Linked DNA regions of Homo sapiens: region 1 is linked to region 2. The links come from fine-mapping of genetic effects on gene expression. A gene starts in region 2. The other region holds a variant in brackets. All regions are shown on one strand. Distances are between the middles of the regions. Region 1 overlaps SYT2 (synaptotagmin 2). Region 2 holds the start of PPP1R12B (protein phosphatase 1 regulatory subunit 12B).

What was found.
Region 1: its variant is fine-mapped to the expression of PPP1R12B in whole blood (TOPMed, PIP 0.98).

The regions. Positions count from the first base shown.
Region 1 is chr1:202,621,770-202,637,809 of GRCh38, reverse strand. The region is part of intron 1 of SYT2 (synaptotagmin 2); the gene reads left to right. Among named protein-coding and RNA genes, the nearest start is that of SYT2, 81 kb to the left of the region's middle. RefSeq lists enhancers at 1-195, 14,472-15,096 and a silencer at 12,282-12,361. The variant C/T (reference allele first, on the strand shown) is at 8,300.
Region 2 is chr1:202,342,370-202,358,409 of GRCh38, reverse strand. It overlaps PPP1R12B (protein phosphatase 1 regulatory subunit 12B), which reads right to left and starts at 9,711. Exons shown (of 24, transcript NM_002481.4): 1 at 9,268-9,711. The coding sequence starts at 9,558. RefSeq lists enhancers at 9,443-9,752, 9,424-9,964.

The DNA of each region.
Region 1 (16,040 bases), 280 kb before region 2:
ACCAGAAAGCCAGAGTAGCTTCCAAAGGCCTTAGTTTGGCCCCGGGCACTGAGGGAGGGGCAGAGGGTGAAAGGGGGAAGGAAGGCCCTTGGCCTGGCCTCAGCCCAGCCAGCCCTGCAGCCAGGAGAGATACTGCAGCACCTATGAGCAGCCGGCAGGAGAGTCTCTCAAAGCTGCTGCTCACAGTGGGGCAGACGGAGCCTGCCAGCTCCAAGCCTGCCTTCAACCTGCTCCCCACTGCTCGGCTGGGCTGGGACTTGAGGGCAGCCGGCTGCTCAGAGACAGATTGCAGCCTGTCCCCCATCCCCACCCCCAGCACATGGCGCCTGGGTGAGAGCACAGCCCAGCTTCTGGACTTATGTGGACTTCTTGCATGCGTACTTTGTCCTGAGCCGACTCGTGTGCCCCTAGTCCATGGTTTTTGGTTTTGGTTTTCGGTTTTGGTTTTCAGGTTTTTTGAGACAGGGTCTCACTCTGTCGCCCAGGCTGGAGTGCAGTGGTGTGATCACGGCTCACTGCAGCCTCAACTTCCCGAGGCTCAGGTGATCCTCCCACCTCAGCATCCCACATAGCTGGGACTACAGGTGTGCACCACCATGCCTGGATAATTTTTGTTTTGGGAGGTTTTTCTTTGTTGTTGTTGTTGTTTTGGTAGAGGCAGGGTTTCACCATGTTGCCCAGGCTGGGCTCGAACTCCTGGGGCTCAAGCAATCCTCCTACCTCAGCCTCCAAAAAGTGCTGGGATTACAGGCGTGAACCACCATGCCCAGCCCCTAGTCCATGTTTTAGTGAGACTTGGGATATGAGGAGCCTTGTACTTGCATGTGCTTGGCACTGTGGTGCAGTGGTTAAACCTCAGATGCTAGGGCTAGGTTGCCTGTATTCAAATGCCAGCTCCTCCAGTTTTTTATCTGTGGGACTTTGGCTAAGTTACTTAAACACTTGTTACCTCAGTTTCCTCATCTGTAAAATGGAAATGAAATAGCTTGCCATCAGGTTGGCATGAGGATTTAATGTATGACTATTTACATATAGCTCTAAGAATAGGCAGTGCCTGACACAACGGTGCTGTAAAGATTTTGCTATAAAGTAATATAAAGAGTGTTATTATGGTGTTTCTGAAAACTGACGTTTTGTAGATAAAGAAACATAGCAGCAGAGCTGGGAGTGGGGCGAGGCAGGGATATGATTGGCTTTGATGAGAAGAACCTAGAATCCAGTGAACCCACTATTAAGTTACTGCACATGGCCCCAGGCAAGCGGTTTTTCCCTATCTCTTGGACCTCAGTGGTCCCCATTAAAAAATGTGGAGAGGGATGCCTGTCTTTCTCACTTCTCCCAAGATGTCCTGGGATCAAATGAGGCAGACGATGATTTGAAATAGCCAGTGAGCCTAGCGGATGCACAGGTTGGCCTCTCCCTCTCCCTGCTCTGGAGCACATGCTGGCTTTCTGGCTGAGGTCCTGGCATGTTGGGCTTTCTACCAAGGGCACCAAACCCAGTGGACTGCTCTCCCAGTGAGGCCACTTGGACTCTGGGTGGCTCTGGGCTGAATCTGGCCCTCCTCATTTTCTGTTCCTTATTTCACCTGGAAAAAGGATGGTGGTTTTGTATCTCCTAATGCTCCTTAGCAAGAGAGAAGGAGTGTTTCTGAATGCAGTCTGTAGTTGTACAAGCAGAGAAGGGGGCAGGAGAACCTCTCCTTCAAGCTGGGACACCCTGGCCATGAGCCCCAGACAGACTGAGGTGATGCCTTCCCTGGGTTGTCAAAACTGGGAGCTCCTTCCCCCTACCACTTGCAGCCAGACTATCCACAGTGCAGGGAGGCAGGCAGGGGGCTGATCAGAAGCAGCACATTGAGTCAATATCACATTCAGCATCTTTCCTGCCAGGTAAGACAAGGACCCTGGTTGTTAGTGCCCTTGTCGCTTCCTCCTCTTGCCTCCTTCCTGGCTGGGAGGGAGAGCCAACCTGATCTGCTCATAGTATTGCATTGATGGTTAGGTTAGGGCCTCATGGTTTGGCCCCCAATATCTTCTGCCAAGAACCATGGGGGTGACCAGGCTGTGTATACCCAAGCAAGCAACCAAGTGATGCCCACTGTCCTACAGACTTCCCACCTGGTCATCTGGGGTGAGTTGTACGTAAGGAGAGGGAGGGCCACTTTAGAAATGGCCTTAGAAATGTCTGCTTCTGGAGCTGTCCTCAGAGCTTCTTCCTGAATATCATTTTACCAAGAGCCCCAGAGATGAGGTTTCTTGGCCAAGGTCACCCCCAAAATCAACTGTGAGCTCATGTCTTGAAGTCCACTATGTTTCTTCTGCCCCATTCCCCAGGCTTCCCTAAAGAAGATATCCAGCATTGGCTAGAAATGTAGGTTTCCCTTCTGGTGCCTGTCTCCCGTGACCCTGCTCCTGACATCAAATCCCCCTCAACATCATCCCTTGTAAGTTCTATGGGTTTGGATTAGAGAGCGGGGAGAACTTCCTGAGTGGCCTCATTGGGACAGGGAATGGAGGCTTTCCCCAAGATACATAAGGGCAGACCTGCTTTCCATGAGTGTGGGCTGGATCAGGTCTTAGGAGCTTCAGGAGTTCGACAACACAAAGTCCAAAATCAGGTTCTGCGGCCTCCTAGCCATGGGACTTTGGGCAAGTTGCTGACTCGCTCTGAGCCTTATCATTAAATTGGAATGGATATGATTTACTATCTTATTTATAGAAGTTTATAAATATATATTTACTTTTTGAAAACAGCTTTATTGAGCTATAATTCACATACGATACAATTCACCCATTTAAGCGCACAATTCAATAGTTTTTAATATATTCACAGAACTGCACAACCATACCACGATCTAATTTCAGAACATTTTTTCACCCCTGAAAAGGAACTCCATACATATTAACAGTCACCCTCGATTCTTCCATTCCTCCCAGCCTTAGCCAACTAATCATCTACTTTCTGTCTCTATGAAGTTGCACCTTCTGGATATTTGATTTAGATGGAATTATATAATACATGGTCTTTGGTGACTGGCTTCCTTCACTCACATAATGCTTTCAAGGTTTAGCCACATTGAAGCATGTATCGATACTTTATTTCTTTTTATTGCCAAATAACATTCCATTGTGTAGATATACTGCGTTTTATTTCTCCATTCATCAGTTGATGGATGTTTGGTTGATTCCACTTTTCAGCTACTCTGAATAATGCTGCTATCAACATTTGTGGAAGGGTTTTCGTAAGGATATGTGTTTTCATTTCTCTCGGGTATATGCCTAGGATTGTCAAATGGTATACTTTTTTTTTTTTTGAGATGGAGTTTCACTCTTGTTGCCCAGGCTGGAGTGCAATGGCACAATCTCGGGTTCAAGCAATTCTGCTGCCTCAGCCTCCCAAGTAGCTGGGATTACAGGCATGCGCCACCACGCCCAGCTAATTTTGTATTTTTAGTACAGATGGGGTTTCTCCATGTTGGTCAGGCTGGTCTCGAACTCCTGACATCGGGTGATCCACCCGCCTCGGCCTCCCAAAGTGCTGGAATTACAGGTGTGACCCACCTCTCCCGGCCAGTATACTTATTTTTAAATGGTATATTTATATTACTAGGCTCTGTTCTAAGTATTTCATATGGATAGTCTCCTTTAATTATCACAATACTCTACAAGGTAGGTACTATTATGAATCCCCTTATTATAAAGTGAAGAAATGGAGGCATCATTTGAGGGACATCAAGGGATTTGTCCAAGGAGACTCAGCTAAGAGAGCCAGGATTTGGACCCTGGCCTCTGGCCCTTTGCTCTTCCACCACCTTGCTCCCACATGTGAGATTTAAGTGAGAGAATGTCTGAAAGTGCTCCCAGCCTGACTGTAGTAGGTGCCCAAGAAATGTTTGTTGGATGCTGGGAAAGGACCAGAAACCTTGCATTTCGCTGTCTGACTCACCATGTGGCTTTAGGGAATTTGTGTCCCTTTGAGCCTCAGTTAAATTTCCCCAATACATAAAGCTTCAATATGGCATTTCATAAGAGACAGGGCTGAGATGGGAGGTGCAATATCATGGAAAGGGCCCTGGATTCTAGCTCTGGCTCTCTCACTGGCCTCTCACCATTCAGTTAGAGGCTGTAACAATTGATCCTAAGTTTCCTTCCAGCTCTCCCATCCTATATAAGTTCTATGTTCTTCCTCAGCAACTGGAGCCCCCTAGGGAGCTAAGCTGGGATGGGTGCCCAGGGCCTCAGGTCACTGCTGTGCTCAGCAACACTTCTCCCACCCAGTGTGTTAAAGGCCAGGTAGGGGCTGAGTGGGATGAAGATGGGGAGAGGGGAGGACCCACCCTAGGCCTCCCTTCCATTATGGAGCCCTTGGTGTGGGCTGGAGACCTTCTATTCTCTCAGCCAGAAAAAAGCCACCTCACCTACACATCCCCTCAGTCTTCCCTGGCTCTCCTTCTCTTGAGTCCTGCTCCTCTGGAGTCACTGCAGCCCTCATTCCAATGAACTACCCAGCCGTCTTTGGAGGCTTGGCCTAGCTCCTGGTTTGGGATCACTTATGGGAAAGAGCTGGGCACCCAGTGGGTGCCCAGCATATTTTGGTGACTTAAATAGGGATCAGTATTTGAGCTAGTGGCTTCCCCTAGGTCATGATTCCCCAGTTCACTTTTCCCCATCCTTTGTCAGCAAGAGCATTCACTGCATTCTGCAAATCTAACCTGGCAGCACCAAGCGAGGCGCGTCTGCATCTTCCAACTGCACAGCCACATCCTGTAAACTTTTCCTTGGCCCTCCCTTTAGTCCATATTCCTTACTTCCTGGATGCCACCGGTCAGAGTGCCTCCTGCATCCCAGGTCCTGTGCCAAACACATAACATACAGGATGGTGCATTTACCCCTCTGTGGTGGGAATTTGTAGCGTCTCTAGTTTATAGAAGAGGAAGCACATCCAGAACAGGGAAATAACTTCTCCAAGGCCACCAAGCTGGTAGGTAACAGTGGAAGGATTTGAGCAAAGGCTGTCTGGTCCCAAATCCTGCATCATTTGACTGAAAGGAAAGATGGCATAAAGGGCTTTTAAGGGGGTGCCCAGAGCCAGGGAAATCAGGAGGAGCCTCTCTGGGCAGGTGGGCTCTGGATTCCTCCGGGGCAGGTCTGTGTCTCTGTGTCTTCTCTTTTCCCCTGCTTGGAGAAGAGTCGAGCCTGTTGGGTAATGCCTGGGAACACCCTCCTCTGGGCTTAGTCTTCTCATCGACAGAACAGGGTCTGACATTTCCAGCAGGCCTGTGCGCCAAGCTTACCTAGAGATCCGGCGATGGCTACGCAGCCTTTCTTCCACTGGTTATAGAGTCAGTTTCTCCCAGGTTTGCTGTTCTTGCCTGTAGTGTGATGAGCCGGAGTCTCATCCCCAGCTCCCCATCCCCCAATATCTGCGTGTCTCACTATTTTTAAGCTCCGTGGGCTTAATGAGCTGCCTGCCATGACACGTCTTCAACATTTACCTTTTTCTCTAATGAGCCTCAGAGAGCTAGGTTGGGCTTATTTTTCCCTTGACAGTCCCCCACCCCAGTCAGGAGGCCAGAACTGGGCTATTTCCCTTCTGGGCCCAGACTTGGCTTCCTGAGACCCCCACAGCAATGTGCCCCACAAATTATCTAGTGGTGGCAACACTGCAGATTCCAGGCCCTGGGGAGCTGGCTCCTTCTCTGGTGCCACCTTCTGTCTTGTTTCTCCCCTCTTACCCCACCTCAGCCCCTTCCTGCAGAGTGGCAGTGTCATAAAGGAAGCTCTTGTGGTCCTCACATAATTGGCAGCTACTTCTCCTTGAGGACAAACTGCCTGGCGAACCAGCAGGGCCTGGCGAATGAGGCCAATCAGCAGCAAGGGCTGGGATGGAGATGTCAGAGATTTAGAGGCTCTCAGGGTTGGAAGGGAGACCTCAAATTTCATCTAGGTCAGCGCTGTGTCCCCTTACCTGAGTCCTGTCTATAACACCCCTCCCAATAGTGGGCTAACCTCAGCTTGAATGCTCCCAATGATGGAGCCCTCATTACCTCCTGGGACCATGAACTCATCAATGGGTGGTGCTGACTGTGCAAAAACCCTCCTTCATTTTGAGCCTAAATCTATTCTCCCACATGAAGAGAGGAGACCCCCGCAGTGGGTTCATCCATCTTCTGGCTCCAGCCCTCGGTGCTGTGAAGGAGCCGCAAGTCACTCTTCATGAGGAACCATGCCTGGTGTCTTGGGTGGGGGCAGAGGCACCGCTGATCCACAAAGATGTGGTGTGATTTTTTTCCTCTCAGGGGACTTTGCTTGGGGGAGGGGCCGCTGGGAAGAGCCAAGAAGCTGCTAGAAAAAAACTTAAGTCGTTCCTGTTTCTCAAGTGCAAAGTGAACCTGCAGCAGAACATTAGAAACCCTGATGCAGGCTAGCTGTGTTTACGGGGACCATTACATGCCGGTTCTCTGTTGCCAGCTCCAGGGAGTCAGGGTCTGATAGGAGCCACCCCAGGTATTCCATTTATAGTCACAGCTCCAAGCAGGGGTCATCTGTAGGGTGAACTGGAACTCCCTGCGGTTCCAGAGAGCCACAGATGCTCACCCATGCTGGCTTTGGTAGGCAGGCAGCTCATTAAGCCTCTCCGAGGCTCAGGATTTTGCCAGCTTGGAAGAGCACTGGATTGGGAGGCAGGCTCCTTACTCTGCCACTTTGGACAAGTCCCTTCCTCTCTCTGGCTGTCAGTTTCCTCGGCTGTGATATGTGCTATGTGTGGACCTTCAGAAATGGTGCAGGGCTGGGCCCTGCAGCTGCCGAATGCCGTGTGTGTGGGTGGAGGTGCTTCATCCTGGGCTGTGTTCTGCAGGACACAGTGTTTGTCACCAGTGGTCATATGAAGGGGACAGTCCTCTGCCCACTTCCATTCCACCTCTCCTCTGGCCCAGAGCAGGGAGGCCAGAGCCCTGTGTACTGCTAGGCAGGGCAACGGCCCATTCTCAAATGTTTCCTGGGGCCCGGGGTGTGGAAAGATGCTTCCGCTCCTGTGAGGGAAAACCTTGAGGCCTCTGGTGTCCTGGACCAGGGAGGCTCTCCTGCCCTAGGTCAGGCTCTGAGGAGAGGGTCCCAGATGATGGCGTCTCTGGAGCCAGGGGTGTGTTCGGCTGTGTCATCACCTTCCCAAGTCAGCTGTCATCACTGCACTTTCCAGGGTGGTGGCTGTGAGGGGTCCCATCATGGTCTGTGGTTTGTCAGACACCCACCCAGGTGGACGTCTCTTGCCTGGAAAGTGGCCAGCCTCTTCCAAGCCCACCCCATCTCCTCCTAAACCTTGGCTCCCTGCTGCTCTTCCAGGAAGCCTTTCCTCAGTGGCTCCCTGGTTCTAGGTGCCTTTGCCCTGTGGTTCTCAGCAGAAGCGCCTGTGCATCATGGGAAAGCCGGTTGGCGATGGGATGCACGGCGCTCTATTGGGGTCTGTGTTCCCTCTCCCCATGTGTCCTCCAGCACCTGGTCAAGCCAGAGTGTGTGGGAGCCAGGGGTCAGCCCCCAGCTCTTTCTGCTCTGCACATTCGTTTTTCTTTTTGATGTAGTTATAACTTAGATTCAGCAAAGTGCACAACTTATGGATATATGCACCAGTGTAATCACCAAAGAAATTCCCCAGAAGGATCCCTGTCCCCTCCCAGCCCCTGCCTGCCCCTCCAGTGTAACTGCTCTATTGCCATGGAGTCATTTTCTGTTCTTCGGAGCTTTCCTCCCATTCCTGGTCATTTCTCAATCTCCCTGGCTTTCTTCTTTCTCTACAAATCCTCCAAATGCTGATATTTCTAGAAGCCCATCTCTGGATTTCTTCTTATGCCCACACTCTCCCCAGTGGATTATCCTTTTGTGCTAGTGACTTCCAGAGTCACTTCTGAGCAACACACCTGCCGTACCACCCCCCCCCCCCCACCAGCTGCCTGCTGGGTATGGCCGCTTGGCTGGTCCGCTGGCATGGCTAGGTCTTACCTAATGTCAAACTCCTGGGCTCCAGTGATTCTCCCACCTCAGCCTCCTGAGTAGCTGGGACGACAGGCATGCACTACCATGCCTGGCTAATTTTAAAATTTTTTGTAGAGATGGGGTTTCACTGTGCTGCCCAGGCTGGCCTCAACCTCCCAAAGTGCCGGGATTACAGGTGTGAGCCACCACACTAGGGATAGGTTTTGGCTGGGACACCCTTGGGGAGTCTGGGCAACCTCACCTCTTCACATCCCAGTGTTGTCATCTATAGGATGGGAGTGGCAGCTAGAGGAAGAACAGCTAGA[C/T]TCTGCTGACTTCTGAGAGGAGGATGTGGTCAGATACCCACAAATGAGAACTTGATACCCACAAATGAGAACTTGAAAGCTTGAGCAACCAAAATAGAGACTTAGCAGCCACTGTTGGAGAAGCCATGGCTGCTGAGAGGCCTGAGTATTGGGGAAGGTGGGCTGGAGGAGGGGGAAAGCCTTGGCAGTATCTGGACACAGGGGCAGGAAAGAAGCCAGGGATAGTGCAATGGCTCAAGAGAGGCCTTGGCCCAGAGGTGGGCATCAAGAAGGCCATCTGGGCTGGAGCTAAAGGCATGGGTAGAAGGAGGACCATTTATTAAGAGAGGCCTGAATTATCTCAGAAAATAATAATTTAAAAAAAGGGTATTGGCTTAACCTGGTCCTTAATAGGGAGTTAGCAGAGAGGCTGCCCCACCTCTCCACTGGAGCCATCCCTGTGTGCTTCTGACAGGCCCGTGCCCAGCCTGGCTCAGGAACCGGCCATGGCCATAATACCATGCTTTACATACAGTGCTCCTAAGCCTCGCAGCCCTGCGCAGCAGCTTCCATTATCATTCCCATTTTGCAGACGGAGTGCTGAGGCCCAGAGAGGTTAAGCAACCTGTTCAAGTTCCCATGGCTAAAAGAGCCGAGACTCCAGTCCAGGTCAGTCTGCCCAGAGCCCAGGTGCTCATTCACCCCACTTGGCAGCACCTGGTGTTTCACTTGGCTCCTCTTCCTCAGCGGAGCTGTCTTCTAGGTTTGGATCCACATAGAATTCCAAGTTGAGGCTTTCCAATTTGGAATTCTCCCCCTCACTGCTCCCCTCCTCCAGCCCATGGGTGTTTTGAGGCCATGGTTCATCCCTCCTGGCCCCTATCTCCCATGTCTGTCCCGGCCCCCGGTCAGGCAGGAGAGAGCTGGCTTCTTTGGAGCACCTAATTGTGCCCCCGGGACTTGCATGCTCCACTTTAGTTTCTGGAGACCATGAGCTGTCATAGGTGTTGGTGATAATGGGCATCTCTGTCTGAAGAGTGATGGGCACGTCTCTGTCCCTGGGGCCTGGCCAGCACCTGGAAGGATGGAGGCGCTCTTGGAAACGGGAGGACCAGACTGCACCTTCTTTGGCTGGCTCCCTGCCTGGGATGCTGGCTCCCAGCTCCCACTGAGAGCAGGCTGGGCTCCCCAGACATCTCATGACCTCTCCCAGGTCCTGGTGTGGCCCAAAGCGAGCTGCTCTGCTACCTGGGAGTACAGCTCTTTCCATCCTCTGGGGAAGGGTGCTTGAGCGAGTGACCTGTTTCGCTCCCCCTGAGGCCCAGTTTCCTCAATTACAAAATGGGAATCACAGTCCCCACCTCACAAGGCCCGGATGAAATGAAATATGCCGCTGGCACGGAGTGGGCACAGTGGAGGTCTCCCTCCCTGCCCCCGGCACCCACCTCTGAGCCCGGTGCCTTTGTGATCTTCCCGTTAGACCCACCTTCCCAGTGTGCTTGAGGAGCTCCCTGGGGCTCTTTGTTGGGAAGGAAAGAGCCCTGGGCTGGGTGCTGGGAAGTCAGGGTTCAAGTGCACTGGGAGGCCCTGGGCAAGCTGATCTCAGAGCCTTAGTTGTCTCCTCTGTCAAGGGGCAGAACCACATCTGCTGCACCTCCCAAAGGCCTGAGCTCTGTCGTCTCCCTGTGAGCTGCTTCAGGATGGGGTTGGGTTTTATTCATCTTGTATTCCCAGCACTTAGCATGGAGCCTGACATAGGATTTGGAGGAAACGAAAGTGAAGATCAGATGAAAGAGTGGATTTTTAAGCAATTAAACATGCTAGGGGTTATTTTCAAGTTTGGGTAAGGCAGACAACTCCTGGTCAAACCCTCATTAACCAGGGAAGTGGTCTTCATGCCCTTCCTTTGCGCATTACTCTCCAGAGAACCTGAGCTGCACTGGATCTCCTTTCCCCATGGGGAGCCATGGGCCTGCCTACCTATAGTGGAGCACTGCAAGGCAGTGCGCCTGCCCGTCCACACCCCACCCATGACCACTCAGGCCCTGGGTGTCACGGTCTGACCTAGACAGGGTGCCTCTTTTGGCTTTGGGGTTTCTCTTCTCTCCTTTAGCAGGGAGCTTGATGGGACGGAGGTTGCCAGAGTTGGGGGGCAGTTCCTGGTGAGATCCCCCACCTCCTCCATTTCCTGCTATCAGGCTCAGCAATCAGGCTGCTCCTCTGGGAGCTGGCAGGAAATGCAGTCGTAAACAAGGCACGTTCCCACCTCACAGCCCTAGTGGTCCCCTGGGAGCTGAGCTGCTTATACAAGTACCTTTGACACCAGGAAGAAGTGACGCAGTCTCTGCAAGAGGAACACACAGAGCCAGGGAAGAGAATTCTGGGCCTTAGGCTCCCCAGCCGCACAACCTCTGCAGCAACCCTTGCCCTCCTGGACAGAGCCTGGACTGGCTCAGAGTCCCTGACTTGGCGAGCACTGCACCCCTCGTTGTGGGTAACACAAGGTCTGTCCTTGAGTTCGTGGTCAGCATGGACTCAGCCTAGCCCCGCTGAGAGGAGAACTGAGGAAAGGAAATGAGTATTTAGGGTCCACTTTGTGCCAGCACATGTGGCCTCTTCAATCCTCATAACATCCCTGTGAGACAGGCACCTGATCCTCGGTTTGTAGCTAAGAAATGATCCCAGGGAAATGAACTCATCTCCCAGGGCTGCAGAGCTGCTAAGTGTCAGGTTGGAAAGCAGCCCTGGCTGTTCTAAAGCCCACGTTCTCTCATGACCCCACCACCCTTTCTGCCGCTTGCCTTCAGAGGTAGAACTCTCCAAGCATCTCGGAAGGCTGGGTTCTAAAAGCTGAGAGGCTATCTAGGCTGCATGCGGTGGCTCAGGCCTGTAATCTCAGGACTTTGGGAGGCTGAGGCAGGTGAATTGCTTGAGCCCAGGAGTTTGAGACCATCCTGGGCAACATAGTGAGACCCCTTCTCTACAAAAAAGAGCCGGGCATGGTGGTACGCCTGTAGTCCCAGCTACTCGTGGGGGTCGAGGCTGCAGTGAGCTGTGATTGTGCCACTGCTCTCCAGCCTGGGTGACAGAGTGAGACCCTGTCTCAAAAAAAAAAAAAAAAAAAAAAAAAAAAGCTGAGAGGCTGTCTTGGGAGATGCAAAGCCACTTTCCAAAGGATGGAAAGAAGTGAAGAGAAACCAGGTCTCTTGATGCCTCTTTCAGGTCCCAGCCCTCTTGCCACCTTTGGAGACAGAGGGTCTGGCAAGAGATGCCACTGCAGAGGGAGGGTGGGGGCTGGTGACCCTGTGGTCTCTTCCAACCCCGAGGCTGTAAGGTGACCCGCATCGTAGTCCACCCCCTCCCATTACCCACGTACAGGGCCTGTAGCTATCACCCCAGCTTCCTGGACAAGTGGTGTGGCCCGAGACCCCCAGCGTTCCCTTCCCTGGAGCTTCTCACATTTCTACATATGGCAGTGTAATGCACCTGCACACAATGTTTGCATATGTGTTCACAGTGCTGGTTCATGCATGTTTATACATTCATACATGGTGTTCATACACATGGCGTTCACGTGCACACACATACACATACACAGCCTTTCTGGCATTCTCTGCTATGTTCTTGCACTGGCTGCTGTCACCCATTTCAGCTGGGCCTGAGAGATGGAGACAGGACCCCCTCCCCGGTGCTGCCGGCTAGCAGATGCCACAGTGCTGATGTTCTGCTCCATTACTGAGTTAATGGAGCCTCCTTCTGCCTCCGGCCTCCCACCGGTTGCCCACCTCCTCCTTTCCAGGGTGTGAGCGTTGACTGGGGGCCTGGGAGGGAGCCTGGCGGGGGTGCGGCTGTGTGCGGAGGGCGTGGGCCTGGCTTGGGTGGAGATGGGGCTGGAGGCAGGCGGCAGCCTCCTGGACGGACAGCAGGGGGCACCGCTAGGTCTCCTCAACGGGCCGCAGGGAAGAAGTGGGCTGGGGAGGAGGCCGCGGTCTCTCCAGCTACTCTCCTGCAGCTTGAACGGGGGCACCTGCCACCCAGCCCGGGCTCCTGCCCCTGCCCCCTTCCCCCTCCCCGCACACTGGCAACACCCCCTCCCCTTACACTCCCAGTCCACGCCACACACACACCCTACTACACACCACACACACTACACACACACACCACACACCACAAACATCACACACACACCCTACTACATGCCACACACACCACACACACACCACACAGACACAGCACACACCACAAACATCACACACACACCCTACTACATGCCACACACACCACACACACACCACACAGACACAGCACACACCACAAACATCACACACACACCCTACTACATGCCACACACACGACACACACACCACACAGACACACCACACACCCTATTACACGCCACACACACGACACACATACCACACACACCACACACATACCACACACAAACCACACACACACCCTACTACACACCACACACCCTACTAGACACCACACACACCACACACACAACCTACTACATGCCACACCACAAAGACACACACCACACTACACACACCACACATGCCACACACAGACACCACACACACTACACAAACACACCACACAGACACACACCACACACCCTACTACACGCCACATACCACACAGGCACACATCACACACACACCACACACCCTACTACACACCACACACACCCTACTACAGACCAGACACCACACACACACACCATGCTACATGCCATACACACCACACACACACCACACACCACACACACACCACACACCCTACTACATGCCACACACACCCTACTACATACCACACACACACCCTACTACACGCAACACACACTACTAAACACCACACACACACTACTACACACCAGACACTGTGCTACATGCCATACACACACTCTATGACACCACACACACCACACAGATACCACACACATCACACACCACACACACTACTAAACACCACACACACCACACACATCCACACTCTACTACACACCACACAGACACACACCATACACACCTTACTATACACCACACACACCTCACTACACACAACAGACCACAACACATACACGTATTACACACACATCCCACACAAACTCACTATACCCCCATACCACACATACGTACACACCACACATATGCCACTACCCACTACCCACATACCCCCTGACACCCCACTAGAGCCTCCACCCCTAACCCACACCACCCCCTACATCACACACACACCATATATACACACCCCACTGTCCCCCACACCCTAGCGCCCACATCACACACACTACACATACAGCACACACATCCTACACATACATACCACCACATATACCCCTACCCACCACATACATGCACACGCCACATATGCACACTCACATCACACACACACCACCACACTCACGCACTCCTATTAAAAGGCTTTTGCTTTCGTGCCAAACCTCTAAACCCATCCCTTAGAGGGGCGGTGATCGGCAGAGCTAGTGTGTTCAAACCTTGTAACATTTAGTCAGAAAGAAAATGCATCAATTTGTAACAGTTTGTAGCTGAAATTGAAGATGTGCATCTGGCATGAAAGATATCGGGACTGTGCTGGAAGGTGCTGTGTGCCTCACATGAGGCAGAGCTGCTCACACTGTGGCTGGAGGATCCATTGATTGTGTGGGTTAATCACTGCTAAGCCACAGAGAGCTCCCCTTTCCCCTGGTGAGCGCTCCCCCAGCTGGCAGTTGCCCACGCACTCTGCAGAAAGCAGTGCCTCTCTTGGGAGCACGACCAGGGCAGACCCCCACAGTCCTACCCGTCCTCCCTCACACTCAGAGCATGCGCACAACAGACCTCCTGGGGCCCACGGGTGCACCCCCCCTACACACTTTCCGTATCCTACACCAGGCAGCCCAGGGCCCGCTGGTCCCCAAGCCTCCATCTGTCCCCACTCAATCACTCATTCCGGGTCGCCCACCCTTCCCGGCCTGCTCCCAAGCATCTTGACACCCAACCAATGGAAGACCCTCTCCTCCGCCCCAGGACAGCTGCCTGTGGGTTTGGGAGATGTTGTGGGGTGCTGGGGAGTGGGGAACCCTGGAGGCCCAAGATTCTGAGTCTCTGGAGAAGGAGGTGGGAAGGCAGCCTGTCTGGGGGCCAGAGGCAGCCCCCTGGGCTGGGAGCAGCTGGGGGCCCCAGCAGGCAGCTCAGGGCTGGCCAGGCGGCTGGACTGTGACTCAGCAGCTTCTCCGTCTTGGCTAGAGTGCGCCGTGCTGCAGTATTAACTCCCTCTCCAGGGAGCCTGGACTCCAGCTCCTCTCCCATGGGGATGGCGGGCTTCTCTGTCCTGTTTCAAGTTGTGATCCTGGCTGGGGTGGCAGAGCGGAGGGTGTGCTGAGGGGCTTGCCTGGCGGGGGCATCCCTCTGCCCCCTCACCACTGCTACTATCCCTGCACCCTACAAGAGTTAGCCAAGGATCAAATGGAGCCAGGGCTTGGTGGGGTGGCCTGAGGGGCGACAAAGGCCTGGAATCCAGGAGTTGACAACTCAGGCAGGGCTGCCACCATTTAGCGGTGTTGTTTGTGTGATGGAGGTAAGCCACCTCCCTTTGGGGCCTCAGTTTCTTTGTTTTCGAAAAGAGGCTGTGGACTGCGTTGTCTGTAAGAGTCCCTCAGCCCTCACAGGCTGGGTTTTATTAATATTTGCCTGTGATTTAAGGGTATCCATGCCTGGGGTCTAGGTTCAGAGAGAAATAAATAATCCGAGGCAGGTGTGAGGTGCTGCAGGTTTACAGAGCCTCACTCAGGAAACTTCACCTTTGATCATGGAAGCTGTCCTTAAGGCAGGCAGGGCAGGGATGCTTAACCCCCACACACAGCTGCACAAGCGCAGGGAGGCTAACAGGCCAGCCCAAGATTGGTGCAGGAAGGGCTCAATCCTCAGCCATTGGATTCTGAGGCGCCCATCAGGTGGCCTGGAATTGCTGATCTCAGCGAGATCAAGAGAAGGAAAATGAGTGTTGCTGCAGCAGGAGAGATTGAAGTTAGACACTAGAAGGACGTTCCAACTCTCAGGAACCTGGGAGTTGTTAGCTTCCCCAGGGCCAGTCAAGAACAGACTCTGCTTCTACGTGTGCGGAATGACAACCTCGCTCCAAAGTGGAGGTGTGCATGCACTGACCAAGAAGGCTCATCAGGCCTCGGTACACAAGGAACTCAAAGAAATGGGTAACTTATTTTCAGAATGAGCTAGAAAATTAATTCATTAAAACTTTATCCTCAGCCTCCTAGGACCAAATGTTGGACTGAAGCATTGGTGCAAAACATAAAGACATATATTTCTCCTTAAGTATTGATCTTTCTAGCCTGTGAGCTTCGGTGACAGGTGTCTTGCTGGTTAACCTATTTCCATCTCATTACTTTGGCTTCTGCAAATACAATGCCGGGAAAGATTAAATACTGTAAGCTGTATCCAGTCAGCTCTCCATTATCTGCATTAATCAAGGCTAGTACTGAGTGGGATAATCCACAGAAGTGCCTAGTCCCCAGATCATATTTAATTGGTTTGGGGTGGCAGTTGATGGTGAGTGTATGTACATGTGTGCACACACACACATATATGCTTTTGGTGAGGGTGAGGATTGAACTTACTCATCTTTGATGTGGCATCAGGATCCCATTTTGGAGGCAGTCTCATTTGGGGGCACACCAAGGGAATCCCAGAAGCCTGCTAGAGGAGACAGCAGGGCTTCCAGTCTCCTGACTTTTTGT
Region 2 (16,040 bases):
CGCCTGGGCAAAGCTTCAGTTTTTCAATTGAATTGCCTCATGAAACAAACATAAACTCTGCATGCCTGATAAAACTTTAAGCCCCCAAATTTTACTCAAACTGGTTACAATCTAAGATCAGAAGAAACAATTTTTTTAAATGACACTTCAAAAGCAGGAAAAACCCCAACATATTCACAGACAAAAACAACATCAACAAATTGGGCAAGCACTCAATTAGCAATCCAAATGAGGCTTCAATTCCTTGTCCTATATGACATTCTGGGCCAAGGTCTTAATCTGGATTTATTATTACTATGTTGAACCATTAAAGATTTATTAGACATCCCAAACCTCCATATTTCACCATCTTAGAGAAGATATATATGTAATTCTCCTCCATAAGCATAAAATAGTCTCAAATACTGATAAATATAGTACTCCCCTGACACTCCTCAAGAGCCAGAATGCTAGAACAGAAATCGGTTATGTAGCCAATTTCCTATTATAAGTTATAATAGTAACCAACTATTCTGGAGACCAATCCCAAAATTCAAGTTAGTTTCTAAATTGTATCTACTGCTAAGTAAAAGTAACAAGCAGCACAGAATCAGATACACAGTAGACACTCAAGAAATAAATGTAAGAGAATGGCAGAAAAAACTGTTTATTGGTACTAACCTCCCTATCACTGTTCCCCCAAGGCTGCCTTCCAGTGGAAGTGCTAATGAGTGGGAAATGGGCCAAACTAGACTGAGAAGTAAAATAAACTAGATAAGCAGCCATCAGTAATAGGGACATAACTTTCTTGCCCCTATTATCAGGTTTAATATCCTAAAATATTCTTAACTGATGAATAATGAAACCACCTGAACTAGCCAGAATTCAGCTTTTAAAGTGTCTTGCCACATATTTTGGGCCCTCATTTAAATTACAATTATATTGATGGAAAATCTATATTTTTTCTCCCAAAAGTCAACAGAAAGACAAGTTATCCTTAATGCAAAAAAAAACTTCATATAACCTCCACAAAAGTCTTCAAAAATATCTCTACTGAAAGTGCTCTTTCAAAGTTTAAATGACCAAATCCAACAGTCTTTTTACAGGCCTTCTCCTCAATTTCCTTTTACATTATTTACCATCCATTCCTTGAAATACCTCAATATCACTGTTTGTCGGTTCTTCTCTGTATTAGTTTCCTATTGCTGCTATAACAAATTACCATAAACTTAGTTGCTTAAAACAACACAAATTTATTATCATAGCATTCTGGAGGTCAGAAGTCTGAATCATGGCCAGATGCAGTGGCTCACAACTGTAATCCCCAGTGGCTCACACCTGTAATCCTTGGGAGGCCAAGGCGGGTGGATCACCTGAAGTCAGGAGTTTGAGACCAGCCTGGCCAACAAGGCAAAACCACGTCTCTACTAAAAATACAAAAATTAGCTGGTTGTGGTGGTGGGCGCCTGTAATCCCAGCTAATAAGGAGGCTGAGGCAGGAGAATCGCTTGATCCCGGGCAGCGGAGGTTGTAGTGAGCCAAGATTGTGCCACTGCACTCCAGCCTAGGGGTCAAGAGCAAAATTCAGTCTCAAAAAAAAAAAAAAAAAGTCTGAAATCAGTCTCATTGGGCTGAGTTGTCAAATTGCTGGCAGGGCTGGTTCCTTATGTGGAGGCTCTGAGAGAAGAATCCACTTCCTTGCCTTTTTCAGCTTCTAGGGTCCACCTGCATTCCTTGGCTCACAGAACCTTCCTGGAATCCCTGCAATCTCTTGCTTCCTTCATCACATCTCCTATTCTGATTCTGCTCTCTTGCCTGTCTTATATGGATGCTTGTGATTATATTGGGCTCACCTGGATAATCCAGGCTAATCTCCTTATCTCAAGATCCTTAAATTAATCATATCCCCAAAGTCTCTTTTACCCTGTAAGGTAACATATTTACATGTTCTGGGGATTAGGACTTAGACATTTTTGGGGCACCATTAGTCAGCCTACCACATCTTCCAACAGCTCTAACTTGAATTTCTGCATTCTCTGCCTACCAGCTGCTTGTGTTTTCTGCTCTTCTCTGTATGTTTTCTCCCTTTCCTCTTTCACACTCATTACTTCAACTCTCACCTTTATGCTAAAATCAAGTCTCTTGTCTCAAATATGAGAAAACTGGAGCATAGATAGGAAAGTGACTAGCCTTGAGTCACATAGATACCTACAGGATATTTACTTACTTACTTACTTATTTATTTGAGACACAGTCTTGCTCTGCTCTGTCACCCAGGCTGGAGTGCAGTGGTGTGAACACAGCTCACTGCAGCTTCAACCTCCTGGGCTCAAGTGATCCTTCCACCTCAGCCTCCTATGTAACTGGGACCACATGTTTGCACCACCATACCTGGCTAATTTTTTTTTGGGTGGGGAGGGGGTTGGAGAGATAGGGTCTCACCACATTGCTCAGGCTGGTCTCAAACTCCTGGTCTCCAGCAATCCTCCCGCCTTGGCCTCCCAAAGTGCTGGGATTACAGATATGGGCCACCATGCTAAACACCTATAGGAGATTTCTATTTGTACGTCTTCAGAGTACCTCAGTCTAATCGTTGACTGAATACTATTTCTACCTGAATAACACAATTCTTTCAGACTCACAAGCTAGAATTGTACTACACTTTTTTCTCATCTCCATTCACTCAGCTGGTTCTCTCAACTCTGTCTCTCCATTCATTCAGAAATCCAAGTGCTGCTTCAGAATCCTAAAATACTGCTTTGGTTGGGTAACGACCCTGCTCAAACCCACAAAAATTCTCTACTAAGGAGTCCATCAAGCCACCTTGGCCTGATGTTTGATGTTCAAAGCCCTCTAGGATGTCACCCTGACTCTCTCTCATCTCTAACCCTTCAAACACATCCATTAGGATTTCCTAGCATCCTCTGCCTACACACCACACCCATTCCTATTTATTCGCCCATGCTGCTCTACCATCCTGGACTGCCTTCGTTTGTCCTTCCACTTAGGAATACATCCTTTCCAGGGTATCATAGAATTTGGAACTCTAAAAGGAATCTTTTTTTTATTTATCTGTTTCCAAACCTGACTGTTAGTTCCTTGAGGGCAGAAATTATACCACATATATACTCTAGTACAGACTTACAATCTACCATTTAGACATTCAATATTAGTTGTTAATTAAGAATCTAAGAAAACCTCTAAAGAGAAAAATATAGTGGAACACGGCCAGGCATGGTGGCTCACGCCTATAATCCCAGCACTTTGGGAGGCTGAGGCGGGTGGATTACCTGAGGTCAAGAGTTCAAGACCAGCCTGGCCAACATGGTGAAACCCCGTCTCTACTAAAAATACAAAAATTAGCTAGGATGGTCTCGATCTCCTGACCTCGTGATCCACCCGCCCAAAACCCCGTCTCTACTAAAAATACAAAAAAAATTAGCTGCGCATGGTGGCAGGCACCTGCGGTCCCAGCTACTCGGGAGGCTGAGGCAGGAGAATGGCGTGAACCCGGGAGGCAGAGCTTGCAGTGAGCTGAGATCACACCACTGCACTCCAGCCTGGGCGACGGAGCAAGACTCCGTCTCAAAAAAAAAAACAACAACAAAAAAAACAATTAGCCAGGCGTGGTGTCACCCCCCTGTAATCCCAGCTACTCAGGAGGCTACGGCAGGAGAATTGCTTGAGCCCGGGACGCAGAGGTTGCAGTGAGTCGAGATCGTGCACTGCACTCCAGCCTGGCTGACAGAGCGAGACTCTGTCTCAAAAAAAAAAAAGAATGGGACACATGTAATTAATGGCATATTATTCAAATATCAAAAACTTTACTCTAGGCCAGGCATGGTGGCTCTTGTTTGTTTATAGACACAGGGTGTCACTCTGTCATCCAGGCTGGAATGCAGTGGCACGATCATGGCTCACTGCAACTCCAGTTCCTGGACTCAAGCTATCCTCCCGCCTCAGCCTCCCAAGTAGCTGCAACTACAGACATGCACCAACATGCCTGGCTAATTTTATTTTTTTGTAAAGACAAGGTTTTGCTATGTTGCCCACGCTGGTCTCAAACTCCTGAGCTCAAGTGATCCTCCTGCCTCAGCCTCCATCTATTGTGATTATTGGGACAAAATAACTGATGAATGACTGTCATGGGCTGAGGGTGGGAGGAGCTGTCTACCAAGGAGCACAAAAAATCTTGAGGGTAACGTTCTACATCTTGATTACAGTGGTGGTTCCACAACTGTACGCATTTGTCAAAACTCATACGATGCTACACTACAAAGAGTGAATTTTATTGTATATAAAGTATATCTTAGTTTTAAAATATTTTAAAAGAAAAAAATAAACTACTTAGTTTTATGTTAACAACAAGACTGGTCCAACTCCTTACCTTTGGCAGAATTGTGCTTAATCCATATATATTGACAGGTTGCCTATTTCAAAATACTCACAGAGTAGAAGATTCTAAAAGCCCAAATGGTGATATACAGTTATTCAGCAGGAGTTGAAGAATTGGGGAGAGGCCAGGCATAGTGGCTCCTACTTGTAATCCGAGCACTTTGGGAGGCCGAGGGGGGAGGATTGTTTTAGCCCAGGAGTTCAAGATCAGCCCTGGCAACATAGTGAGACCCCCTTGTCTACAAAAAATTTTAAAAATTAGCTGGGTATGATGGGGTGTGCCTGTAGTCCCAGTTACTAAGGAGGCTGAGGTGGGGAGGATCACTTGAGCCTGAGAGGTTGCAGCTGCAGTGATCCATGGTCACACCACCACACTCCAGTCTGGGTAACAGGGCAAGACCCTGTCACACACACACACACACACACACACACACACACACACACACACAAAGAAGAAGAATAGGGAAGAAATTCTGCGGAACAAATGAAAGTCATTTTTATTTATACTTTCAAAAAAAAAAACCACACAGACAAAAAGCTGAATTTCCCAATATGGCTTTGAGGTCCAACATAGTCTGATGCAACATATTAAGCAATTTGAAGAGGTAAGCTACTAAAATGGCTCAGGATAGATGACTATTCTAGATGCACAATAATAAAGGAGCAAACAGGATTTTTCTGAATCCTATGTTGCCATGGGTCCTGACACTAAGCAGAATTCATCAATATTCAGGGTAAGGCAAAAGTAACTTCGCAGGTGGAACCAGGAGAGGAATGAGTAATAAATGTAGAATAAAAGAGAAAAGGTTAAAAGCACAAGTTTTATTTTACCATATGAGTTAGCACACAAAATATACTATTTTATATTGAACTGAACACACATTCATCTTACTCATCTTCTGTCTCTGTCTGAATATAAATTGCTCAGCCTATCCTCCTCCCCTCACTTGTTCCTATCTCCATCTCTCTTCCTGAGAAATACGTGATTTTAGCCTCCCTAAGTCTACAGCGTCAGACTGAGGCAACTCTAGAATGACAAAGGCTTATTCAACTACAAACTGAATTCCAGTCTGGTGTGACCTTGAGGGTCCAAATTTGGACCCTGCACATTACAAAGACAGTCTGAATTTCTTTTTTCTTTTTTTTTTGAAACGGAGTCTCACTCTTTTACCCAGGCTGGAGTGCAGTGGTGTGATCTCAGCTCACTGTAACCTCCACCTCCTGGGTTCAAGCGATTCTCCTGCCTCAGCCTCCCCGAGTAACTGGGACTACAGGTGTGCACCACCACACCAGGCTAATTTTTGTATTTTTAGTAGAGACGGGATTTTGCAATGTTGACCAGGCTGGTCTCGAACTCCTGACCTCGTGATCCACCTGCCTCAGCCTCCCAAAGTGGTGGGATTACAAGCGTGAGCCACCACCCCCGGCCGCCAGTGTGAATTTCTGAGTCAAGTATGGAATTATTCTAATCTCCTTGGTAGCCCTCCAGATGAAGACTGATCAGACCGTGCTAAGAGACAAGACCTATGGTGACTGAAATCCAGCATCCCTCACCACACTCAGCACAGATTTAAGAGTCAACATAATACATGCTGAAGTAAGTAAGCATTCATTTTAATAAATCCTAGAAAAATCTCTTTTCTGAAAGTAGGCACTTGCCTCTTCCCACAGCAATAATTTGGTAGATATCATGTATCTAGGCCTAGAGTACCTAAGATTATAATGCTAAGGATATCAAGATAGGTGCTAACAGTCAAACTTAATAAATAAATAAAAGAAAAAATTTAAAGTACTATTCCACATAGAATTATTAACAAATATTCCTGGCCTTACAATGTGTATACGCAAATGAAACAGAAATTCCTTTGTGAGCAAACAAGTGCTTTCAAGGGTTCTATAATCAGATTAATACCTTGTTAAGGACTCTAGGACAACACATGCATACACACCAAATCTTAATTTAGTCACTGAAATTTAGTCTGCATCAGTTTCCAAGGCTTTCATCAGAGTTGGTCTAACCTTTGAGATACTTCTTATCCCAGTCTAACTCAAGTATTATTAATAGGCCCCCTGGAGCTTGTTATCTTTGACTCAAGCACCTCGTGGTCTCAGCAAAGGCTGCCAAGAAAGAAGGTCTCTAAGTCCAAAAGAAGCATCAAGGCACCACAAGCTGCAGTGCAAATCATCTACTGTGACGTTGTAGGAGGAGAAAAATTGTCCCCCAGTATTATCTGGGGGCTTCTAACATGCCAAGACAATAATCCACAGTTGGTCAAGTGGCCATGGCCAAAAGAGAGAAAAGAAGCAATTATCCAGATAATTTATATCGTGCTTGTATAACAAATGGACATTTTAAATAAATAATTCAGATAATTGTACCACTCACTCTCCATTTCACAGAAGGTGAATCCATTGTAAAGTAGGTGGTTCAGCTACCAACAGCTCCAGTCTCCCATTTGAAAATAGTCTTTTATGTACCTTAGGAGTTCTCCAGGTCGGCCATGCGCGGTGGCTCATGCCTGTAATCCCAGCACTTTGGGAGGCCGAGGCAGGCAGATCATTTGAGGCCAAGAGTTTGAGACCAGCCTGGCCAACATGGCGAAACCCCATCCCTACTAAAAATACAAAAATTAGCTGGGCATGGTGGTGGGCACCTATAGTTCCAGCTACTTGGGAGGCTGATGCATGAGAATAGCTTGAACTTGGGAGACGGAGGTTGCATGCAGTGAGCTGAGACTGCACCACTGTACTCCAGCCTGGGAGATACAGTGAGACACTGTTTTTTTTTTTTTTAAACAACAACAACAACAACAACAACAACAAAAACTTCTCCAAGTCATGGAGACACACATTGTAACTCTTCGGAAACTGACTTGTAATGTTCTGAAGCCAATAAAGGCCCGTTGTCTTGATTCAAAGATACAGTTTCTCAACAGACCTCAAATCTTTAAGCAGCTTAATTTTTAGCTGAATTTGTCTAGAATCGAGTATACTTGTTCAGTTCAACTCCTTGTCAGCCCTATAAATGGAAAGGAATGCTTATATTGCATTTATAGATGTTAAAAAAAAATCCATAGCTGTCATCCCCTTCTTCTCTTATTTCAATAGATTACTAGGCCAGGCACAGCGGCTCATGCCTATAATCCCAGCAGTTTGGGAGGCCAAGGAGGGTGGATCTCCTGAGGTCAGGAGTTTGAGACCAGCCTGGTCATCATGGTGAAAGCCCATCTCTACTAAAAATACAAATATTATCTAGGCGTGGTGGCAGGCGCCTGTAATCCCAGCTACTCGGGAGGCTGAGGCAGGAGAATCGCTTGAAACCAAGAGGCAGAGGTTGCAGTGAGCCAAGATCTCGCCATTGCACTCCAGCCTGGGCAACAGAGCGAGACTCTGAATCAAAAAAAAAAAAAGAAAAAGAAAAAGAAAAACAAGAATTCACCTTCCCAAAGAGTTCAGAAATTTAAAGTTTAGAATTTAATGTGGTTCTCTTAGCTTTTATCTCATTTTACATTCAGCTCCTTATTAAGTGAGATAGAGATCTCTGTGACATAAGTCTGAAAAATCCATGCCTATGGGCCACTTCTTTACTTTCTAACTTTGCACAAATAATTTTCCTGAGCTTCAGTTTCCTCATCTGTAAAATGAGAATAACAACACTACCTGCCACACCTACTTCAAAGGATCACTGCTGAAACTCACATGGGGTAAGACATATGAAATCAAACAGCAAAGCACTCTACAAATATTGGTTACTACCTCAGGTGGGGAAATATTATCAGCAGGAAAAAAAAATGGGTACAAAATAGGGTGAAAGAGTTTCTTCTACCTGAAATAGAAGGGTTGCAAACATAGTGAGAAGTAACTTTTTAAGCTATTGGCTAAATATATTTAGGGAAGTGGTCTGATATAAAGTTGAGTTATTATTTAGAAGTAGATTCTCATGCCAATACATTCACTTTGCACAGACGGCAGAAGAAGAAAAATACAAAAGATTAAGAGTGGGTGTCCGGCTCTCAGCTCACCAAAATAACTGATGAAGTTCCATTTGAGGAGAGAGGGGTAGTTAGTCATGGCAGTCAGTAGACAGAGAATATTGCTGCATTAGGTGACAGAAGTAAAGGTGTCGTTACCAAGCACAGATTATCCACAATCCATATAGTATAGCTATACATGGGGCATGGGATTTCTATAGAGCACTTTAGAAAAAAAAATAGAAAAATAGAAAAGCTATTCCATAAGTATCAAACAGAGGTAATTCAGTAACTTAGTTCTCCATAGGAAGCTCTCAGGGAGGTAGCACTGCTGAGAAGGAAGTTAAGATACCTAAAACAACGAGGTCCAGCGTGTTCTAGGAGCTGTAGCCTAGAGGCAACACAAACTGTTTTGAAGTACTACAAATCAACAAAACAAGAGGTGTGGTTTCAGACCTGCTTGTCTTTACCCAGTAAAGGGCTTTACTCTTTAAGTGATATAAGATATTCTATAACGGGGACACACAACAACTGAATTTTCTGAAAGGGCATCAAACAAATGACACTGTGCCTATGAGTGACGCGGTGTGCAGGCACGCCAACCAGACATAAGTGAAGATAACTAATCTACAGGGATAAGACCAGGGACAAAAATCACCAGTAACCATGACAACACAAGTAGGTGGAGGGAAATACAAACACTGACCAAGCAGCGGGGTGACGCTATTCCTAAGACCCTGGGGTCAGAAAAAGACTTGATTAGTGGAGGAAGCTGGCCAAGAATGAAACCGATTAGCCCAAAAGGGCAGTGTCCATGCAGAAGGAGTCGGCGGCAACACTGATACTCCCCATGGGGTGGCTCGCAGGGTCAAAGGCTCATCTGTAGGAGACTGGACGCCTCTAAGACCAAGAAAGGAGTTACCTGGTGCAGGGCTGTCAAGCCGTCCACGTTGACCGTGTTGATATCAGCACCTCTTGCCAGAAGCTTTCTCACCTCGTCGGTGTCCCCGCTAGAGCAGGCGGCCAGAAAGACAGCACCGTCCTCGAAGCGGACCCTGGGGCTCCCGCGCCTGGTCAGCGGCTGCCGCCCCGCGCCTCGTCGCTCCGCAGGCTCCTGCTCTGTCAGCGAGCCCCGCCAGCGCCGAAGCTGCTCTGCCCGCCGCATTCGCGCCGACTCTGCCCGCTTCCCTCCTAGGTGCTCCAGTTCCGCCATTGCTCCGGCCTCGGCAGCTGCTGCCAAAACTACCAACACTAAATTACTGTTGGGGCTCGAGTTGCCGCTGCCGCCTCTCTCAGAGCGCTTCAGCCCGGAGCAGAGGGCGGAGACCCTCGCGCCGCCATCTTTACTCCTCCCGCCAGTAGTACCGCCCGCACGCTCCCTCGGCTTCAATACGCAGGCGCTGCCCGGCCTCGGGTCATCACGGGACTCGTAGTAAGAGGCCTGCCCTAAGTGCACTTGGTGGCCGTAAGGGAACTACAAATCCCTGGATGCATCAGAAAAAAGGCGAGGACCGGCGGCTCTCTCTTTCGCCACGGGACCCAGTGGGGTCACCTTTGCCCTAAAGCTGGAACTGTCTCCTGGACTGGCGTCAGCCTCTTCCTCTGGGCATTTTGGGAGTTGTAGTTTATTCTTGTTATGACTAGTAACTAATCTTATCTCCCTAATTATCACATCAATTCTTTGGAGTGGAAAAAAGGCGGTAATTATTCCTGTTTTCTGGAGGAGAGAACTAAACATTAAGTACCTAAACGACTGGATTCTATATCCTAGTTCTAAGTCTAGGGTTTTATTAACATGTGTATTAATCACGGTAAATGTGAATGAGCGTGGGGAAGAGGAGCATACATACAGATACAGTATTACATGTTTTACATAAATACTGTCAACTTACTCCAGGCCCAGAAAAGATCTTGAAAATGATGCATTCAGATGTAGTGAAAAGAGTTTAAGCTGTGAATTTAAATTGAATTCACAGCCGCAGACAAATTACTTGACTTCTCTTAGCCAGTTTTCTTATGTGTAAAATGGGAATAACATCTCACAGGGTAGTCATGTGGATCAAATGAAATAATACATGCAAGGATGCCTAATACTATCTTTGGCACATATTGGATCCCAATAAATAATTTCTCTTCCTTCTCCCTCCTCCTCCTCCTCTACTCTTTTCATATACCTTAAATTTTTACAAGACAGAATAGATGTCTTCCATGATTTTTATTTCTTTTCTTTTGAGACAGAGTCTCACTCTGTCACCCAGGCTGAGTGCAATGGCGCAATCACGGCTCACTGCAGACTCAACCTCCTGGGCTCAAGCGATCCTCCCACCTCAGTCTCCCCAGTAGCTAGGACTACAGGTGCCCACCACCACACCCACTATTTTTTTATTTTTTTGTAGAGACAAGGTCTCACCATGTTGCCCAGGCTGGTCTGGAACTCTTAGACACAAGCGATCCTCCTGCCTCAGCCTCCCAAAGTGTTGGTATTACAGCCCTGAGCCACTGTACCTGTCCCATGATTTTTTTTTTCAAAGCTAGAGAAAGATACTATCAAGCATACTAAATCATACTAAATTCCTAAGGTAGCAAATAGAACATTTTTATATTCACCAAGACTGGGTTATAAAACATGTATCTGTCCGATTGTTTTGTTTTGTTTTGTTTTGTTTGAGACAGGGTCTCGCTCTGTCACCCAGGCTGGAGGGCAGTGGCATGGTCGTGGATCACTGTAGCCTCAACCTCCCAGGCTGAAGCGATCCTCCCACCTCAGCCCCCCAAGTAGCTGGGACTACAGGCCTGTGTCACTATGCCTGGCTAACTTTTGTATTTTTTGTAGAGACAGGGTTTTGCCATGTTGCTCAGGCTAGTCTTGAGCTCCTGGGCTCAAGTGTTCCACCCACCTCAGTCTCCCAAAGTGTTGGTATTACAGGCATGAGCCACCGCATCCGGCCAGTCCGATTGATTTAATAAGTATAACCTCCAGTGCTCTAGCCCTGAACAAAATACAATTAAATGTGTTACCCATAATGAAAGAGTACATATGCAAATGTTAGATTCTTTAAACGTTTCTGTATGTTTAAAATTTTTCATTTAAAAAATGTTGCAAAATGATTGGGGTATTGTAAAGGGAAACTTTATTATATTCTGTCATGTGAAAATTTGCCTGTTCCTCAATTTCCCCTGAAATGAAGTGGAAATCATACATTAAGGAAACAATTAATTATTGAATTGAAAGCCTCAAATGAAAAGTGACATATAAATGTAAAAAATATTATGTTTAATAATACTGTGTCTAAACACCATATGCTTTAGTAGGATATTCTTAAATACATTATAAATACTAATTAAACCTCATGTCAAATCTGTGTACTATCAATAACAATGTACATAAGGAAAATCAAGGTATAATAATGTATACATTATGTAACCTCATTTTCCTTGCTACATGCATTTATTTATGGCCACCATAGAACTTGTCATGTCTCATCATTTATTGCAATTAAAAATTCTTGGCCAGACGCGATGGCTCACGCTTGTAATCCCAGCATTTTGGAAGGCCAAGGCGGGCAGATCACTTAAGGTCAGGAGTTCGAGACCACCCTAACATGGTGAAACCCCATCTCTATTAAAAATACAAAAATTAGCCAGGCACAGTGGCAGGTGCCTGTAATCCCAACTACTCAGGAGGCTGAGGCAGGAAAATCGCTTAAGCCTGGGAGGCAGAGGTTGCAGTGAGCCGAGATTATGCCACTGTACTCCAGCCTGGGTGACAGAGCAAGATTTTCTCAAAAAAAAAAAAAAAAATTATTCATGAGATTTACTTTGTAACATATCACAGTGGGACCTCCTCTTATTCCAATTCAGCCTCTTGCTGATAATTACTATTGCCCACAAGCTCCCAAATAGAACTCTCCCTAAAGGATAAAAGAAAAATTGATATTAAATCAAATAGGTAAGAATACTCAGCTAGAAGCCTAATCCTATTTACAGTCCTCATGCATCATTTCAATATTATGTTCCTCGTATATGATAGCTGCTCCTATATATATATATATATATATATAACTTTATGTTTTACTGGCATACTGGTCTTCTAATAAGGATTTTTAAACTGGAGTAAATTTTTCAGGGATCAATAATGATGCTTCTTTTGGCTGCATTATTTTTGTATTCCGAATTAGGAAGCAAAAAATATCTGGTTCCAGTTGTTTAAATAAGCTAAAATTGACCCACTCCAGGTTAAATCCTTACTTTCCCAAGAGATATGAACTTAAATTTCTTTCTTTCTTTTTTGGAGACAGAGTTACCCAGGGTAGAGTGCAATGGTGCCAACATAACTCACTGCAGGCTCAAACTCCTGGGCTCAAGCAATTCTCCTCCCTCTACCTCCTGAGTAGCTGGGACTATAGGCACATAAAATTATTTTATTTTATTTTATTTTTAAGTAGAGACGGGTCTTGCTATTTTGCCCAGGCTGGTCTTGAACTCCTGGCCTCAAGCAGTCCTCCCACCTCAGCCTCCCAAAGTACTGAGATTTTAGGTGTGAGCCACCATGCCCAGCCTGAGCTTAAATTTCAACACAAATTCAGTCTCTTTTTCTTTTTTTTTGAAACGGAGTCTCCAGGCTGGAGTGCAGTGGTGCGATCTCAGCTCACTGCAACCTCTGCCTCCTGGGTTCAAGCAATTCTCCTTGAGAAGCTGGGACTATAGGCACCCACCACCACGCCCGGCTAATTTTTGTATTTTTAGTAGAGATAGGGCTTCACCATATTGGCCAGGTTGGTCTCGAACTCCTGACCTTGTGATCAACCCACCTTGGCCTCCCAAAGTGCTGGGATTACAGGCGTGATCCACCGCGCCCAGCCAAGAATTCAGTCTCAATATAAGGAAGTTCCAGGAAGCCAGAAGTACTTCCTTACCATACCTATTTTATTTGCTTCTTTTCTTTTTTTTCCTGTGGAAGTAAGAGTGTAATACCTTCTTTGGAGATTTTACAGAAAAGTGTAAGTAGTTAAATTCCTTGGATCATTTAAGTGCATATCTACTTGGAGATAGAGGAATATACCTTCTGGCTATATGATTATTGAAAGTAGTAATAATTATTATAATCTAATTAATTTTACAGGCTCAGCCAAAAAAAATGCCATGAAAACATTCATCTACCTCTAATGACTTGAAAAGTTTTTTCAAATTGAAATCCTATTTTTTCTAAAACATGTTTCCCAACTAGGGCTTTCTGAGAATAACTTACACAATCAGCTCATTAAACAAGTATGGTAATTTAAATTTCCTAAATAAGTACTCCATTCCTTTATTATTTATTTATTATTTATTTTTGAGACAGGATCTCACTTTAGATTTGCAGTGGTGCAATCACAGCTCACTGCAGCCTTAACCTCCTGGGCTCAAGTGATCCTCTTACCTCAGCCTCCCAAGTAGCTGGGACTACAGGCATGCACCACCATGCCTGGGTAATTTTTGTATTTTTTGGTAGAGATGAGGTTTTGCCATGTTACCCAGGCTGGTCTCAAAGTCCTGGGCTCAAGCGATCTGCCCACCTAGGCCTCCCCAGATGTTGGGATTACAGGCATGACCCACTGCACCTGGCTATAAGTATGCTATTCTAAAGAAAATATAAGCCTGGCCAACATGGTGAAACCCCGTCTCTACTATAAATACAAAAATTAGCCGGGCATGGTGGTGGGCGCCGGAAGTCCCAGCTACTAGGCAGGCTGAGGCAGGAGAAGCGCTTGAACCCAGGAGGCGGAGGTTGCAGTGAGCGACAGAGTGACACCCTGTCTCAAAAAAATAAAAAATAAAAAATAAAAATAAATAAGATATATTTTCATATACTAGTGAGTAAATCCTGACAAATACTACTGTATAAAAATAAAATACAATTTTTATACTTTTATAAGTACTAAGTGAGCCTGCTATGATGTGTTGTAAAGTGAAGAAACCTTCATAAAATAATAATTTTCATAGCTATAATTTAAAAATAAATTATAACATTAGAATGCTCCATTTTTAAAAACAATGACACCTGTAAAAAGTTTATGAAAATCTTTTAGCCTGGCCTCTATTCCCACCAGTTAACATACCCCCTCTGGTGGACAAATGGAAACTGTACATTTAGTGTATGGGGTTCTTTTTTTTCTTTCTCTTTGTTTTCTTCCTCCCTCTCTACCTCCTTTTCTTCCTTCCTCTTTTGTCTTCTATCCTTTTTTCTTTCCTCTCTGTTGCCAAAATTATAGGGATTTACTTATTTTATCAAACCATCTCTCTTTTCCACCGGACTCAATACAGTTCTTGCTTTTTTAAGAGACATTTTTAAGACCTATTTCTCAGAGAACCACCCAAGGAAGTAATCAATTTCAGTTCTGAAGACAGAACTGTAATTGAGATACAATTACAATTGGGGCAGGAAGAAAATAAAGACAGGTATTGAAAGGACTAAAACAAAACATCAGTAGTAAAATAAGCAGGAACTCAATTATGACAGAAAACACTTCACTAAATGCTGAGTAAATGCTAACAATAAATGCAAACCCCCAACAGCAAACTGGAATTAGACTGGACAAGAATGGGATTCCTTATGTTTGTTTCACAACTTTATAATAATTAATAAACTACTGTAGTTGGTTTATTCCTACAACTAAGGTGAGGAACCCCAGGGGAGCATCACAGAGTCCTAGTGAACATGTGGTGCCCTTGAGAGAAAACACCCCACACAATGGCTATGGGGAACCATTTGCCACTTAACACCAGTTTTGACTAGATGTAGACATCACTGCAGTGGCCAAAATTATACTGATTTACAAGTTTAGAAAGAGACTGATTATTACTCTGTTACCAATAATAGTAATAAATAGTATAATAGTAATAAATAATAGTAATAATAATAAATTACTATTAGTATTACCATCGTTGTTCCAAAGCTACACAGTGAGCTGAGAGCAGTCAGATGAGGGTTGGCTTTTTGCTTGTTTTGTTTTTCCACCCACAGCATTTCCAAAGGCTAGTCAAGTTCCAGCCATGTGCTTTAGATTAAGTCAGGTCTGTGCCATCTTTCAGCGCTCATGAAGCATTGGCCTCTGGCAGAGGCAGCTCTGAGAAGTTAAGGTTGGCTTAACTATAAACAGGTTCTTCCTTGTTCAGAAAGTACCATGCATCTAGCGTTGGAAGATGGTTTAAAAGTCATCTATTCCAGCTGGGCACAGTGGCTCACGCCTGTAATCCCAGCACTTTGGGAGGCTGAGAAGGATGGATCACCTGAGGTCAGGAGTTCAAGACCAGCCTGGCCAACACGGTGAAACCCCGTCTCTACTAAAAATACAAAAATTAGCTGGGCGTGGTGGCGCTTGCCTGTAATCCCAGCTATTCGGGAGGCTGAGGCAGGAGAACTGCTTGAACCCGGGAGGCAGAGGTTGCAGTGAGCCGAGATTGCACCATTGCACTCCAGCCTGGGTGACAGAGCGAGACTCCGTCTCAAAAAAAAAAAAAAAAAAAAAAAGTCATCTATTCCAAACTGCCACCCAGTGCAAGGATCCTTTCTGCACTATCCCTAACAAGTGATGACCTAACTTCCACTTGAACATTTCCAGTGATGAAGGAATTCACTACCCTACCTACTTTGTTCTTCAGAGTTCTAATTGATAGAATGCTTTATTGAACTAAGTTCTGCATCTCTTAGACTTT